Linked DNA regions of Homo sapiens: region 2 is linked to region 1. The links come from fine-mapping of genetic effects on gene expression. A gene starts in region 1. The other region holds a variant in brackets. All regions are shown on one strand. Distances are between the middles of the regions. Region 1 holds the start of ABCC8 (ATP binding cassette subfamily C member 8). Region 2 overlaps ABCC8 (ATP binding cassette subfamily C member 8).

Region 1 (8,323 bases):
CTGACATGGGGCAGGATGGAGATGAGACAGGAGATCACTTCTCCCTCCCAGGTTCCAGTTAAGACATTTTGTCTCTACATCAGTCCTCTCTTTCACTGGTTCTACAGTCTTCCAAGTTCCCCTGTGGATACAGGCTTTGAGCACCTGAAGGAGACAGGAAAGGACACACCTTTCCCAGTCAGTAAGGGTCACCCGAACTTAGGCTCTGTACTTGTTCTCCACTATTCCATAGTATAGGTCACACCATGAGTTTTGCTTTTGTCTGTTTTTAACCAGGCCGCTGTTGATTGTGGTTATTGAAAGGGTTTATTTCTTCAACTATAACCCCACTCCATTACGTCACCATTGTCATTGTAATGACCCCCTCTGCCATGGTCACTGGAACACTGGCACTCCTAGTCAGCCAGATAGAGACAAAGGCACTAAGGCCAGAACAACATCAGAGCTGGAAGGGACTTTTTGTTTGTTTGTTTTGTTTTGTTTTGTTTTGAGACAGGGTCTCTCTCTGTCGCCCAGGCTGGAGTGCAGTGGCCCGATCATGGCTCACGGCAGCCTTAACCTCCCTGGCTCAAGGGATCTGGAAAGGACTTTTCTGAAGCTCTGCACCAGCCCCTTTACTGCACCCTGCCTGAGGCCACACCCACCCAGTAGCCGGTGAGTGTGAGAATCCAATCCCGGAAATCCAGCCCTAGTTTTCATTTTGCCAGGAGAATGGCTGGGAATTCTCAGAGCGGGGTACCCTTGCTCAAAGCAAGCTCTCAGAGTCTGACCTTCTTCCAGCCCCTAGCAAGAGAAACAAAAGGCATGGCTAGAGGTGGGGAAGCACCAGAGACCCAGCATCTCCCCGACAGAGGCAGACGTAGCCCTGTTACAGACATGAATGATTTTGTATGCCACACACCGCTCTGCGTCTGTGTCTTGGACATCTTCCCCTGCCAGTAAGCATAACTCTATTCTCTGCGCTTGCTCCACAGTATCCCACAGTACAGACAATATCTGTTTTTTGTCTGTTTGGGTTTTGTCTGTTTGAACCAGCCCCATACTGATGAGCATTTGGGTTGATTCCAGGAATACAACCCATATACTACAAAGGAAGTCCTTTCATGCCTCCGTGCGCACCTGACTCCACACTTTTTCAAAGTAATTCTCCCACCCACATGGTGGGCAGTGTGGTGCATGTCCTCAGTGTAGACCTAGGTGCAGGGAAAGGTGGAATTTGTCCACAGTCACACAGTAAGTTTGTGCTAGAGATGGCAAACACGAGTCCCCAAGACTCCAGACTTAACACTCTCTTAGTCCCAGTTGATGCTCCCTTAACACCAGACTTTTTGTTTGTTTCAAATGACCCAGAATAGGCAAGTGTGAGGGTTGCACCAGGCAATGTGGGGTGAGGGAGAGACCATTAAATAACCCTGATTGATCAAGGGGCTGCCGTGTGTAGTCACCCATGGGATGAAGTAGCTTGGACTATCTCCCCAACTTGCAAAGCACATTCATACCCATGATCTCATCTTAATCTTCTGGGTTCCATATTATTATCTTTTCCATTTAGAAATAAGGAAACTGAAGTGCAGAATGGTAACCTGCCCCCAAATCACACAACTAGTAGTAGTAGAGCCAGGACTAGGAGCCCTGTTCTTTAAAAGTAAATATATTATTACTGCTAAAAAGAAAGATAGCATTGCTGAAAGTGTGAAAAAACTGAAATTGTAACTACAAAAGAAAATAACAACATTGCAGAAAATATGAAAAAAAAAAACCTTGAAAGCAAGAAAAACAAACTAAAAGAAAAAATCTTACTGGGTGACCATGGACCTGTCATCTCATCTCTCTGAACCTCAGTTGTCTCATTTTTAAAGAAAGGGAATGAGGATAAGCACAGCGACGGCAGCCAGTACATACTGAGCACCGCCTTACCAAATTTCCAAGTCTGACCTTTCCCTGCAGGCTTCATGCAAGTATACATATTTCGTACGGCTATAATCATGGGAAGCACAATTTTGTTTGCCGTTTTTCACCTGACACTATCTTGTAAAGTTTTTCTATTGACTACACAGACTCAGCTAGCACCGTCCCAGCAGTTGCATTTTTCAAGGTTGATTAACCCCTGTCCCTGGTGCTGGATATTTCTTGCCACCAAGTTTTCACTATTTTGGCTGATGCTGCAAGAAACATCTTTTGGCTTCTGAGAAATTCTCCAAAGTCAGAGACTGAGGCATTCAGACCCTGAACTCCTGCTTTCCCAAGGCTTTTCACCCAACCCCATCTGCCCTCTGCCTCAGGGCCTGGGCAGAGCCTCGGCCTTGCTGACAGCGTGCTGGAGAGGCTCACCAGGCTCAGCAGCCTCAGGGCAGGCTCAGTGAAGCTTGTAGGCAAAGGGGCTGAAGGGGTCTTTCTTTTGTGTTCCCCTGACTGTTCCTAAGAACATGTGCATTTATGCTTCATACCCTAACTAGGAAAGTTCTCCTTAAATCTAACCCCCAAATCCCATCTTCTGTTCTTTCTACATACAATATAAACTTCTTTGGGCCACAGTCTTGTGAGAATCTCTCCAAAACGTATAGGAAGACATAATGTTGTCTTTACAATTGCACGGTGTCCTCCAACTGTTAAGCCTGTCCCAGGTGAGGTTAAGAATTTCAGTCCCTCTCCACTGCCTCACATCCATCTGGCCAGATGCGTTTCTTAAACTCCTCTTTATCAGCCTGGGGCTGTCACCCATTCTACCCATTGGTCTGCCAGTCGCTGTAAGGTTGTCATGTACCAGAGGCATGAGTACAAATGATGGGGGTGGGGACGGGGGACCTGAGGAGCTGGGTTCAAGCTATGCTTCCCTGCTTGCTGGCACTGAGACCTTGGGGGAAGTCATGTTACTGGCCTCCCTTCAGCTCCCTCGCAGCTTGGGTTTCCCCATCAGAAAATTGGAAGCGATTAGAACCTGTACTTAGCAAGAGTTCTGGGACATCCCTTGTGTGAAAGTGCCAGATACGCTGTAAAGCAGTACCTAGGAGTGCCCCACCTGGGACCACTTTTGAAAATGTCCAAGCCCCACCCCACCACCACCACCACCACAAGGTAACGTTCTGCCCCACTTTTCTCATCCATGTTGGGTGGAGACTTGCGCCATCCCTCGGCTCTCTACATCCATCCGCACCACGCCCAGGTGAACTCACACTCGGGACCCTGAACCCGCCCACTCCAGGCCTTGCGGGCCCTTCTCTCCTCTTCTGCACGCCCCACCCTCCTTTCCCACCCAGACTCCAGTGTGCCCACACCCCACTCCCCATCTTAGCCTGCCTTTCCCCTCTCCCCCAGCGCACGCGTGCATCAGGGCACTCACGAAGCCACCCCGGCAACATCTGGGAGCACGCGCCTCCACATCTGGAAGGTGGGCGCAAGCGTAGCAGGGCCGGTCGGGTTCCTCGCCGCCCCCCGGCCCCGCAGGTGGTGGAGCAGGGCGGGGTGAGGGAGGGGGAGGCCAGCGGGGCTGGGCGGGGCCCGGGGGGCGGGGGCCTGACGGCCGGGCCGGGCGGCGGAGCTGCAAGGGACAGAGGCGCGGCAGGCGCGCGGAGCCAGCGGAGCCAGCTGAGCCCGAGCCCAGCCCGCGCCCGCGCCGCCATGCCCCTGGCCTTCTGCGGCAGCGAGAACCACTCGGCCGCCTACCGGGTGGACCAGGGGGTCCTCAACAACGGCTGCTTTGTGGACGCGCTCAACGTGGTGCCGCACGTCTTCCTACTCTTCATCACCTTCCCCATCCTCTTCATTGGTGAGTGCGCGCAGCGAGCCGCGGAGGAGGGGACGGGAGAGCAGGGAGGGAGGAGGAGGCGCTGCGCGCCGCACCGCTCGGCGTCCCCTTCCGGCCCGCGACCGCCGTCCGCCTCGTTCCCGGGGTCCCCTGCCCTGTGTCCTGCCCGCCGGTCCCCGCACTCGCACACCAGCTCATCCCTTCACTCCCCCGGTGCCCCCGATCCCGCGCCAAACACAGCGGACGTTTGTGACCCATGGGATCACCAAGTTTTGCTTCTGCAGGGCCAAGAGCTGGGATGGGGAAAAGGGAAAGAGGAGGTCTCAGCACGCAGTGGGAAACTGGAGAGGGGTCGGGCCTCACCCTCCGTGGCGCAGCTTAGGGAGCCGGGTCACCCCTCCCGCAAGGCAGCCTCCCTGTCAGCCGCAGCTGGGCCTAGGGAAGAGGGAAGCCTGTGCTTTGGAGTCTGGGATGGAGGCCCAGCTAACCCCTATGCTTTCACCGGGCTGAGCCGCGCAGTGGTCCGTGATCTCTGACAGTCCCAGGCCCGCGCCCTGGGCGAGGAGAGGCGAGAGCTAGGGACTTGGATTCCCTTCCCCCGCCACCCCACCCGGGCATGTGTCTCCAGAGCGCAACTTCTCAGGCTCTGCGCAAAGTAGCTCCGACTCGCCGACGCAGCGACCCCGGCGCCCTTGCTTGCAAAGTTGGGCGCCACGGCCGGGACAATCGTGCGTGCCTCTCCACTGAGGTCCCCCCCATCTCTCTCCAAGACCTTGACTCTTCCAGACCAGTCAAGTCTATCAACTCATAGGGTGTCCCCTGCATCCCCAAAACGTGTTCATTCACTTTAAGAAAACAAGCAAATCTTAAAATTCATATACAGCTTTGGGGAAGAAAGGAAAGATTGTCACAAAATTAGATTTACAAGAGGTTGCTGCAGAAGCAGAGTTGCTAGTTATTAACAAAGACAGTTAGATAGAAATAGAAATAAAACATACAAAATATGTGCTCATATGTGCATCAAAAATCAAAAAAGAACAGCATTTACACTTCTGTTCTCAGCCAAACGGTTTATTAACCTGATGACTTGTCACACAAGAAGTTAGTATGTATAATGGGGTACCTTGGCAGGGCACAGTGGCTTACATCTGTAATCTCAGCATTTTGGTGGGCTGTGACAGGAAGACTGCTTGAGTCCAGGAGTTCGAGACCAGCCTGGGCAACATAGTGAGACCCCCCCCGCCCTTTCTACAAAAAATTAAAAATTAGCTGAGCATGGTGATGTGCGCCTGTAGTCCCAGCTACTCAGGAGGCTGAGGCGGGAGGATCACTTGAGCCTAGGAGATCAAGGCTGTAGTGAGCCGTGATCGTGGCACTGCACTCCAGCAGAGGCAACAGAGCAAGACCCTGTCTCAGTAAAAAGGTGTGGTGGGGGAGGTACCAGCATAGGACCAGGCTGAATGAGTTGGACGTTTAGTTTGTGTGTACCAGCCTTGGGGATCCTCATGTGTAGGTGTCACCCTCACCATGGACCCAATGCCCAAGCACCTTTCTGGGGTTCATGCACCCTCTTCCTCCTCCAAGTGGGCAGGCATCCTGCCTCTGACTGTCTCTCCCTGCAGGATGGGGAAGTCAGAGCTCCAAGGTGCACATCCACCACAGCACATGGCTTCATTTCCCTGGGCACAACCTGCGGTGGATCCTGACCTTCATGCTGCTCTTCGTCCTGGTGTGTGAGATTGCAGAGGGCATCCTGTCTGATGGGTGAGTGACTGTCTGAGGACTCAGGAAAGTGAATCTGCTCCAGGGTACTTCCTGAAAGGCCCAAGGAGATCCTAGCTCACCTATATTCCACAAGCCCATGTCTTTTGTTACTACATCCAGCAGCTCAGTGTCTTCTATGTGCCAACCTCTCTGAGCTGGGCACTGGACGCAAGTGAGTCCCAGGCCCTGCCATCAGTCCAGGAGAGCAGAGGGAACACGGACCTGCATGCCAAGTCCCAGTGAAATAATGCTAGAGCCTATTAGAATGCCACAACTCCAGTGAAAAATGTCTGGCCTCTTCTACAACCTGCCGGAGTTACCTTCTTGGAAAAAAAAAAAAATCTAACCATGCCACCCACTCTTGCATAAGACCTTTCCTTGGTTCTCAGCTGTTTTGAAGATGTGGTCTCAGATCCTCAGCCCACCATTCAAGGTCTTCACAGTCAGCCCCACCTATCTCTGGCCTCATTCCCCATGCCCACCTTCCGTTTGGGCCTCACAGCACACTCCTCACACCTCTGCTACAGCACAGATCACACTGTATGTTAAAGTTTATGTCTATTTGCAAAACTGTCTTCAGAGTCAGAAAGGCCTAAGAGTTAGAATCTGAGTCTTGTTCATCTTTGTGTTCACAGTGCAAGGCATGTGATAAACATAAACATTATTCAGTCCATAAACATTTATTGGGTCCTTAGGAGAATGAATGAAACCATGTTACAAATAAGTACTCTGGGAGGTGAGAGGAAGGCAGAATTGGGCAAGCTCCATGGTTGAGAGGGCTTTGGAGCGGAGTCTGGAAGGGTGACTAGGCTTCAGACACACAGAGGAGGAAGGAGAGAGAGAACTGGTGGTGCCTGAGGGAAGGGAAAAGGCACCAAAGAGAAAAGCAGGTAGGGCTAGGGAGCAGCGCAGGGGCTGGAGCATTAAACACAGGCTGGGGAGCGATGGAGGCTGAGGCTGGGAACCCAGGTTGGGGCATCTCAGGAGGACTGTGAATCCCAGCCTGCATGTTTGGGTCGGATTTGGTCAGCAGTTTGGAACAGAAGAGAGATGTCATCAGCATAACACTTTTAGGTGGGAACCTGAGGTGTTCAGCGCAGGCTGGAGGCAGGGAGAATCTAGAGGTATAATAGAAGCAGGACTTAGCATTGACTGCAGTAGTCTAGGTGAGCAATAACTGCAGACAGAAATGGTGTGTCAGCAGTCAGGGACAGAAGAGGAGCGGGAGCAGCCATCTCACTAAGGAAGAATCCAGTAACCAGCAAGGATGAGAGACTGCCAGGAGAGGGAGTGGTGGAGGAGAGGGATATTTGGCTTGAGTATCTGAGGTCCAGCGCCCCCTGAGCTGGAATCAGATTATACCCAGACTGCACTCCTGCAGTGCTGCCTGGCTCCTGTAGTTGGATGGCAGGGGATAGGCTCCCTCATCCTCCCTCCCGTTCCCCACCTTCCCTTCCCCAATGTCCCTGCATCCTGGCTTCAGCAGTGATCTCTAAAATACCTGCTTGACTTGGAGGCAGCAGCTCTGCCTGCTTATTAAAGTCCCTAGACCAGCAAGAAGACCAGAAGGCATACTGCTACACAAGCACGTGACAAGTCCGCCTCCACCCCCACCCCTACACCCCTTCCAAAGTAGCACAAATGCCACAGTGAGCCCTCAGATGGGAAATACTCACCAGATGGTGACAGAGAAAGACACCTCCGCCCTTGGAGAAGGAAGACCTGGGTCTTCAGTGAGCACTGCTGCTGTGTACCAGCTATGGGACTTTGCACAAGTCATTCAGGCTTTCTGGGCCTCATAAGCATTTATAAACATACGATAAAACATTTTAGTTGCCAACTTAAAAATGTGTGAGAAAGTATAAGGTGTTTCAAAATTATTTCAAGGAGTAAAGAGGCAAGAGTTTTGAAGATCCCTGGGCAGGGTGTTGGCTGTTCCCAGTGTGGCCATTCATGACTGCTCTCTGGCCTTATGAAACAAGCATCATAGTCCCTGGCTTGCCTGCTTCATGGGGCTGTGGAGGGTGAAATTCGAGCATGGACAGGGTGCAGAGCCCGGAGTGGCAGAGCACTGGGTAGACTGTGTATTCCCAGAATGTGGGAAACTGGAATGAATCGGTCCAGGGATGCCCTCCTGCTGGCTGTCAGCAGCCCCTCCTGTGTGTGGCTGTACTGCTTCAGCTCAGTGCAAAGGGCCATCTCCTCCCCAGGGCACAGATCAGCTCAAGCTGAGTAATTGTCATCTGGTCTTTGTGAGCTCCTACCCCCAGGCCTGAGTGAGGGGCAGGAAAAGAGCAGACAGGAGAAGTCACAGACCCTTGTGATACCTCCAGTCTAATCCAGCCTGGGTTTTCAGAGCTGTCTGGAAATTTAGGGGGCAGGTGGGAGGGGGCTGATTAAGGCAGCCCTGATTTGATTTAGAGTGAGCCTCATTTAGTGACTAATTAAGCCATCTTAAACCTGTAGGGCTTCCCCTCTTCCTTTGGGTATTATTTCTTTCTGTGATGTTCTGAATTCAGAACAATCAAAACAGTATAAGTTAGTGAAGAAGATATTTTTTAATAACTACAATATTTTCCCAGACCACCATACACTGGATAAAGCCTGTATATAAAACTTTACCTAATTTCTTAACTAATTGAATGTGTATTATTTAACAAAGCAGCTAAAAACTATTCTATGAAGCCATGTCATGAAATATTTAGTTCAATTATGGTTAATCCTCATCTTATTTCGTCTTATAAAATTTTAACATTTCTACCTCCTATTGCAAAAAAAAGCATTTATATCAGCATATAATAAAACATGTCTAGA
Region 2 (8,323 bases), 82 kb after region 1:
AGCCCTTGTGTGTGTCTGGTGACGTGTGCATGAGTTGCAGGGCTGGAGTGGAGGCCTGGCTGAGCTGCTCTCTGCCCCGAAAAGGAGTGAGGTAGAACAGGGGCCTGTGGCTCTAACCCCTGAGCGCCCAGGTCAGCTCCTCTCCCTCCCCAGGAGTACATCGGTGCATGTGTGGTGCTCATCGCAGCGGTGACCTCCATCTCCAACTCCCTGCACAGGGAGCTCTCTGCTGGCCTGGTGGGCCTGGGCCTTACCTACGCCCTAATGGTGAGCGGCAGTGGGCTAGGGCAGAGGAGGGGTCAGACACCAGCACTCCCGGAGCACCTTCGTCACTGGAGACATGAGACACTCCCAGGCCTTACCCCAATTTCATTTGCATCTGATGCCAGAGGGACAGTGCGGGCAGGAAGGCTGACCAGCAGGCCCCAGGGCCCAGGCCCCAGACAGGTGGAGGTTGGGGAGCCACATGACTGACCCTCCCTGTGCCTCCAGGGAGGGCTGCTCTGAGCAGGCAGTGGATGGCAGCAAAAGGAATCTGGGGCCCTGGCCCCTCTCCAGCCTTAAGAAGAGCCATTCTGGTGGCTGAGGACAGAACTAAGCGACCATGGAGTGTGCGCCACTGGCTTGCTCCCCACAGGTCTCCAACTACCTCAACTGGATGGTGAGGAACCTGGCAGACATGGAGCTCCAGCTGGGGGCTGTGAAGCGCATCCATGGGCTCCTGAAAACCGAGGCAGAGAGCTACGAGGGGCTCCTGGGTGAGAGGCTCAGGGAGAGGGGTGGGGAAGAGTCCAAGGAGGAGTGTGTCTGGGTTGGGGGCCACAAGGGAGCCTGGGGATGGGGTGGCACTTTCGGATACTAGCTGTGGCCCATGCCTGGTGGCTGAGCCCAGCCCGGCCCCCAGCACCATCGCTGATCCCAAAGAACTGGCCAGACCAAGGGAAGATCCAGATCCAGAACCTGAGCGTGCGCTACGACAGCTCCCTGAAGCCGGTGCTGAAGCACGTCAATGCCCTCATCGCCCCTGGACAGAAGGTCAGAGCACGGGCCCAACCCAATGCTGCAGGACAGGCGTGAGCAGGGGATGGGGCATGCACGGAGCTGGATGGCTTCGCAGTCACCTCGTGGCCCTCCAGGGCCGAGGCCTCTCACTATTCAGACATCGCAGTCTCCTGCCCTGGGCCTGTGGGGGCCCATCTTTCCTCTCCTTCTATTGCCTTCCCCCAGTGCTGCCCTCAGGCCTTGTCTTCTCACTCATCCACCAAGGAGACCGACACTCTGGACTCCCCCAGCTCACACGGGCTTTGTCAGGGCCTCCCTCTCTGCGAATGGTCAGGGGCTTTCCCTAGGGCACTGCCCCGAGCTTCAGGGCAGGGACCTGGGGGCAGACAGCGAGGCCACCCTTGTATTGAGGGTGAGCCCCTGCCTATGGCCCTGGCCCAGCTCTCCTCTCGTTTCCCACTCTGTCTCTTTGTCTCTGTCTCACTTTGCTGTGGCTGTCCATGTCATTCTCTGACCTTGGGATGTACCTCTGTCCCTGCCTCTCTCATCCTTCTATGTCACTATCTGTCTCCGTATTGTAATTTCTGTTGGTACCCAAGTGCCAGGAAGCAACGGGATCAGAGGTGGCTCCATTGTAGGGCGGGGCACACAGACACATCCATGCATACCACTCTCAGCTGCCCCTGTGTCCTCCTGCCACACCCATGCCCATAGAGACACACCACTGCCCCCCAGCTCTCCTTCAGCCAAGTACCCGGCACACCCAGACCCACACCAAGGCCCAGGCAAATGGACATCCATGCCTGCACTTGCGTGCCGGTCCCTGTGTAAGCCCTCTCTGGACCCACTGCAGGAAACAAGCCCAAACCTGTGGTGTCCAAAGAGAAACTAGTCAGAAAACCAGGCCAAAAAGATACCCTGTGACCTCCCACACCTGCACACACACCCAGAGCTAGCATAGAGGCTATTCCCAGCAGCCCCAGAGTCCCAGTGGCGGTGCCTGCTTCTCTCTTTCCAGATCGGGATCTGCGGCCGCACCGGCAGTGGGAAGTCCTCCTTCTCTCTTGCCTTCTTCCGCATGGTGGACACGTTCGAAGGTGAGTTGTAAGGCGGGCACCCCACGTGTACCCACAGCCACCAGATGAGGCCTCAGCCCTGGCACGTGGTCAGACATGACAGGAGGCCCAGCAGTCACCGCCTTCCCCTGCACCCTCACTGGGACCCATGCAGGGCACATCATCATTGATGGCATTGACATCGCCAAACTGCCGCTGCACACCCTGCGCTCACGCCTCTCCATCATCCTGCAGGACCCCGTCCTCTTCAGCGGCACCATCCGGTGAGCCCCACCACCCCTCAGGCCCACCCAGCCCCAGGCCGGCTCAGTTCCATCAGATCTGGAGCACAAAGAGGAGGGGGTTGGGGGAGACCAGGATCCCAGAGGTGTTTCCTGCTCATGCCCTTCTCCATCCCATCAGGCCCAGGCAGCCTCTGGAAGGGGATCCCCCACCCATGGGTCTAAGATGCTGTCCCCCACCCACTGCCACCACCTCGGTGCTTCTCCCAGCCAGACCTCCAACTCAGTCTGCTCTCGCTCACTGCCCTCTTTGCCGCCTGGGGATGCAGGCAGGACCCTGCTCCCTCCCTACTGGGGCTTTCTGTGCCACTTCCAGATTTAACCTGGACCCTGAGAGGAAGTGCTCAGATAGCACACTGTGGGAGGCCCTGGAAATCGCCCAGCTGAAGCTGGTGGTGAAGGCACTGCCAGGAGGCCTCGGTAACTACTCCTGGCTATGCAGCTGGGTTGGTTGGGCACTCAAGGACCCTGTAAGGATGGCAGACAGAAGCCCGTGTCTCAGGTTTGCCCCAAGTTTGGAGTCTGAAGCCTGGCAGGACCATTTAGTCCTACTTCTCACTATACGGGGGCCCAGAGAGGTCAGGTGTCTTGCCCCAGGTCACACAACTGGTCAGTTCAGGGTCTGGCTCCTCCTGCAGGGTACAGCGGGTACAGTCAGGGATCCTTGTGAGACAGAGATTGCGAGTCCCCCATGCCAAGGGGGCATCTTCAGCCCTGCCCTGCCCCATCCACCTGCATGCCCAGTTCTGCCTTAGGGGAGGAGAAGATGGACTGGGCAATCATAGACACGGGTCACTCATCAAGGCCACCGGTGATTGGCAAAGCCTTGGTATATTTGCTGCAGCTCCTGGAGCATTGGGGGTGGCCAAGCCTTGGTTTCAATGAATCACCCTACCAAGGCCCTACATACACACTCAGTGCACCCCTCAGTGCACACGCCCCCTCCCAGAACTGCCCAGGGCCACAGCAGCACACACCTCCAGGGGTGCCCTTCTCGTTGCAGTCCTTGCAGACGGCCTCCACATTGTTGTGTCAGGTGCACCAGCCCTGCACACGCCTGTGCTCTTGGACACACACCCACCTATTTGCCCCCATGCACACATTTTCCAACAGCCCCCCAAGCCATCCCATCTGCTCCACTCACAGCACAAGATTAACTCAGTCCTACTTCATCTCCCCGGGCTGTTTTCAGATGCCATCATCACAGAAGGCGGGGAGAATTTCAGCCAGGGACAGAGGCAGCTGTTCTGCCTGGCCCGGGCCTTCGTGAGGAAGACCAGCATCTTCATCATGGACGAGGCCACGGCTTCCATTGACATGGCCACGGTTGGTCCTGGGCCCCTCCATGGGACCATGGTCTTGGAAAGGGTTTAGTGGGATGCTAGGGAGAAATTTGCACGAAGTAGTCCTGAGGCTCAAGTTGCCTCTAACATCAAATGCTATGTGTTGCAGAAAATGAAAAGAGCTGGGGGGACCCTGACTCTGTCTAGTCTTAGGGAATGTTACACACACACACGCACACACAAAAACACTATGCAAACACACACATAAGCTGCACACACAGACCCACACAGACTTCACACTGTCACCTATCACAACAGCACACACACAGCCACAACCACAACCTACATACACACACAGAGCTGAGCTCCCAACAGGCTGAGTCCAGTCCCTGAGTGCCGGGAACCTGTTCAGTCCTGTGGGGTGGGGGTGGGACTAGGATCGGGGTCAGATGGGAGCTGAGCCACAGACCTGGGCTCCACATCCCCCAAGCCAGGCCAGACCCCATCCACTGGGCAGGTGAGCCAACAGCTGTTGCCCCCACTTGGCAGGAAAACATCCTCCAAAAGGTGGTGATGACAGCCTTCGCAGACCGCACTGTGGTCACCATCGCGGTAAGGGGCCCATTGATGGGGTGCAGAGGGACACCCAGGGACAGGACTGGCCTGTTGTGGCCGTCATCAGTGCACAGCCCCTGGGCTTGCCTGGTCCCAGTAATCAAGAAAGAACCCTGAAGCAGGCAGTTCAGGGCAAGGGGCCTGGAGGGCATGCAGGGAGCCTGGGTTGCAGGATTTGGGGTGGGGGGTTTTGCCCCTGTGCTTCCCTCAGACCTCCCCTCTCCTTCTCCAGGTTCCAAGGCCTGCCCCTGTCCCAAGGCCTTATATGTTAGGCTGGCGTTACTTCTCCATAGGAAGTGGGGGAGGGGTTGTGGAGGGTCTCTGAGCCTTGAAGCCTGGAGGTGGGGTAGAGTTGGGACTTGGAGAGGAGAGAAGGGTGGTATTAGCAGATGGAGAGCTTGTAGTCACATCCACCCCAGGAAAGTGCAGTCCCCACAGTGACAGGACATTCTGGCCACATGC[CT/T]CATCCTCCTCCTCCAAGCCGCAGGAGGGCCACCCTCAGCTGTGGCCCCCACCGCGGGTGGTATTCCCACCATCCTGACCCGCCCCCTCCTGCCCTGCCCAGCATCGAGTGCACACCATCCTGAGTGCAGACCTGGTGATCGTCCTGAAGCGGGGTGCCATCCTTGAGTTCGATAAGCCAGAGAAGCTGCTCAGCCGGAAGGACAGCGTCTTCGCCTCCTTCGTCCGTGCAGACAAGTGACCTGCCAGAGCCCAAGTGCCATCCCACATTCGGACCCTGCCCATACCCCTGCCTGGGTTTTCTAACTGTAAATCACTTGTAAATAAATAGATTTGATTATTTCCTACTAGAGGCCCTAAGTCTGGTGGGCAGGGGCTGGCGGTGGATGGTGGGTTCAGTAGAACCAGCCTGGCTCTGACATCAGGCAGAAGCTGTGTGAGCAAAAGCCTGCTTCCTTACCTGTGAAATGAGGCCTCTATTAGTCAGCCAGGCTGCCACAACAACATATCACAGACTGGGTGGCTTTAAAACAGACTTTTTTCTCACAGTTCTGGAGGCTGAAGTCTGGGATCAAGGTGTTGGCAGGTTTGGTTTCTCCTGAGGCCTCTCTCCTTGGCTTGCAGAGGGCTGCCTTCTGGCTGTGTGCTCACATGACCTTTACTCTGTGCACATGCATCCCTGCTTTCTCTCTGTGTCTTAAAAGGACACCAGTCATATTGGATTAGGGCCCCACCCCTATTACCTCATTAAACCTTAATTATCTCCTCACAGGCCCTGTTTCCAAATACAGTTACATTGTAGGATTAGGCTTCAACCTGTGAATTTGGCAGGACACAATTATGTCCATAGCAAGGGTGATAGCATTTCTGCAATGAGCTTATCAGATAAGGTAACAGATCTCCATACAGCTTGGTCTCCTTTCTTCTCACTTTCATTCTTGAATTAAAATCTGGATTAACACTATTTCAATTGCAAATGACAGGAACCCAATTCAAAGTAACCTAAGCAGAAACTGAATTTATTGAATATGTGACTGACAAGGCTAAGAGGTATACTACTTCAAGCATGGCTGGACCCAGGTGTTTGACATCCATCTGGGATGTGTCTTCCTTTCTGGGTTCCATTTTCCTCCCCTTTCATTATGACAGATGGCCACTAGCAGGTCCAGCTTACATCCTGCCCCAAGGCAACCCAAGAGGCAAAACAGATACTCCTTCCCAATAGTTCCAGCAAAAGCTTGGGAGCAAATCTCAATGCACCAACTTGGATCACATTCCCATCCCCACCCCACTGTGATCAGAGGGGTGGCATACACTGGCTGGCTAGGCCTGGATCATGTCTCCATCTCCATCCCTCAAGCAGGGGCATTCAGAAGTGGAAAGGTGGTCCTTCAGAGGGAAAGCACAGTGCATGAGTCACAGGTCAGCCAGGTGGTGTCTGGGAGACGCTGGAGCCCAGACACCAGGGAGACTAAAACAGCAGCTGTCCTGACTTCCTCTGCATCACGAAACAAGAGTGCACACCTGCCCTTGGCCAAGAAATGGCAGGTGCTCATTTACATCTCATTTTATGATCATTTGCATATCATCTGCAGTACTGGCTGCACCAAGCCCTGAGGTGCAGACCTAAGAGTCTTGAACCTGCATCCTCTTGGCTGCAAGGGGATCATAGAGGCACAACATAAGAAAAGCCCACCAGTTATCGGAGGCAGGTCCAGTGCAGACCCCTGTGGATGTTCCAGGAGCCAGAGAAGCTCGGAAAGGAAGAGCTCTGTAAAGCCTGGCAGCCTGCCTGGAAAAGACAAAATTTGAGTTAAATATTGTGGGGGATAGGGATTGGTTAGGCAGAAAGTCAGAGAAAGGGTTGGGGTGGCAGGTAGGGACAGCAGGAGCTAAGGAGTGATGGTGGAAGTGTGTTAAGAGTGTTGGTTGATCAGGGAGGTGGGAGAGAGATTACAGCAGTGGGGAGGGCATCATATCAGAGAGCCCTGAATGCCAGAGCAAGGAGTGTGGGCTATGCCCATGGACAAAAAGGGAGAAGGGTTTTGAGCAAGAAAGCGACTTGACAAGTTCAGTATTTGGTGGAGATGACTATAAGCAAGTGCAGGATGGAGCAAAAGGGGAGGCTGAGCCTTTCAGGTGGGAGACTCAGCCTCTCAGAAGGGTGAGCAGCAGGGAGGGAGGTAAGGCCTCAAGGCTGCACCAGGAGGCAGAACCCAGCCTTTCCAGCTCTGAGATTTCCCCAGGGGCCCAGCAGCTTCCTCCACTGTGAGATCTCCCAAGAGCAGAGCCGGGGAACTGAAAGAGGACTCCACAAGCCTACCACTGCTCCAAAGCCACCCCACCTCAACAGATTGAAGGGAAGTAGCAGGGGCAGGGCTGGGCCCACAGTGAGGTGTTGCAGGGATGCCCAAGGTCATCCTGGCCCAAAATCCCTGTATAACATCCCTCATGGCCCACCGACTTGATTTGGGTACCCCACAGATGTGGCTCATCTCTGGTTATTGTTATTAGAACTGACTCTTGCATATGTGAAACCAAAGCCTGCCTCTGTTCCACTTAGTGTCCTGGTTCTACCCTTTGGGCCACAAAAAACTACTAGTTCATCCTCCTTCAAGGCCAGGTGTTTCTGCAATAGTGCCCAAATCCCTGGGGGACTTTCCTTTTCTGATGGCTGGACAGTTGTAGTTGCCTCAGAGATTTCCCCATGTAACCCTGTCTCCTTGAGCTTCCCACTCTGCTCATCTCATTTTACCCTCCCCTTCCTAGACACTGCATCTTTGTTAATATAGCCCATGATCACACCCATCCTTTGTAGCGGTGTTCGCTCTGCCTGCAGGTGGGTAGGGAGAGAAAGGAAAATCCAATATAAAATGCATATCTTGCCCCCACTGTGGCCCACAGCCACACTGCCTTTTCCAGACCCTGTCTCAAGCCCCCACTCCAACAAAATGGCCGCAGATGGTCAGGGGTTCTTCCATAAGGATCTGAGCCACAGACAGCGGTAAAGCCGTTACTGTTCCAACAACAGAGATCTAGCAGGCTTTCCCTCCCAGCTGAGAACCCGGGTCCATGCCACAGGGCAGCCTCAGGCTGATGCCTGAACAGAAACACCACCATGCCGGGACCAAGAGCCTGGGTCCCCCAGTGCCCGAGGCAGCCCTAACACACTGTTCAGGCCTAAATACCACCCATGACCTAACGTGGAAGAAGTCAGGTGACAGGTGTGAGAAAGTGTAAAGCAAGTGGCCTCGGCTCAAACCTTCTTTAAAGTAGGGCCGGAATGGCTGAGAAGATGGAGCCGCCCAGGCTGCCCCACAGCAGTAGCAGGTGTTAAACTGTGCTCCTTTCCTGCCGAGGCCTTTTTTTTTTTTTTTTTTTTTTTTTTTTTTAATGAGAGGGAGTCTGAGCTTCCATCAGATTGTCAAAGGATTCAAGACTAAGATTAAGAGCATCCCCCAAAGAGAAGCAGCTGCAGGTTGAGAAGTCCTCGGACCGCCTAATTTCCGCCAGCCCTGGGATTGGTGGCGCCGCCTCTCAGCGCCTCCTTTCCCGGGGAACCTGCAAACCTGGCGCGGCCGAGAGGCGGATTACTGACCCAAAT

Evidence for each region. PIP is the estimated chance that this variant, and not a neighbour inherited with it, causes the effect.
Region 2: its variant is the best candidate, but not a certain one, in a credible set for the expression of ABCC8 in anterior cingulate cortex (GTEx, PIP 0.55).

Annotation. Positions count from the first base shown.
Region 1 is chr11:17,472,072-17,480,394 of GRCh38, reverse strand. ABCC8 (ATP binding cassette subfamily C member 8) reads left to right here and starts at 3,550. Exons shown (of 39, transcript NM_000352.6): 1 at 3,550-3,766; 2 at 5,368-5,509. The coding sequence starts at 3,619. LOC124902641 (a long non-coding RNA gene) reads right to left here and starts at 3,744. Exons shown (of 2, transcript XR_007062609.1): 1 at 3,664-3,744. RefSeq lists an enhancer at 4,338-4,894.
Region 2 is chr11:17,389,628-17,397,950 of GRCh38, reverse strand. It overlaps ABCC8 (ATP binding cassette subfamily C member 8), which reads left to right. Exons shown (of 39, transcript NM_000352.6): 31 at 154-267; 32 at 638-758; 33 at 905-1,035; 34 at 2,021-2,099; 35 at 2,233-2,341; 36 at 2,676-2,779; 37 at 3,552-3,685; 38 at 4,192-4,254; 39 at 4,823-5,066. The coding sequence ends at 4,960. Among named protein-coding and RNA genes, the nearest start is that of KCNJ11, 5.1 kb to the right of the region's middle. RefSeq lists a silencer at 8,212-8,311. The variant CT/T (reference allele first, on the strand shown) is at 4,720.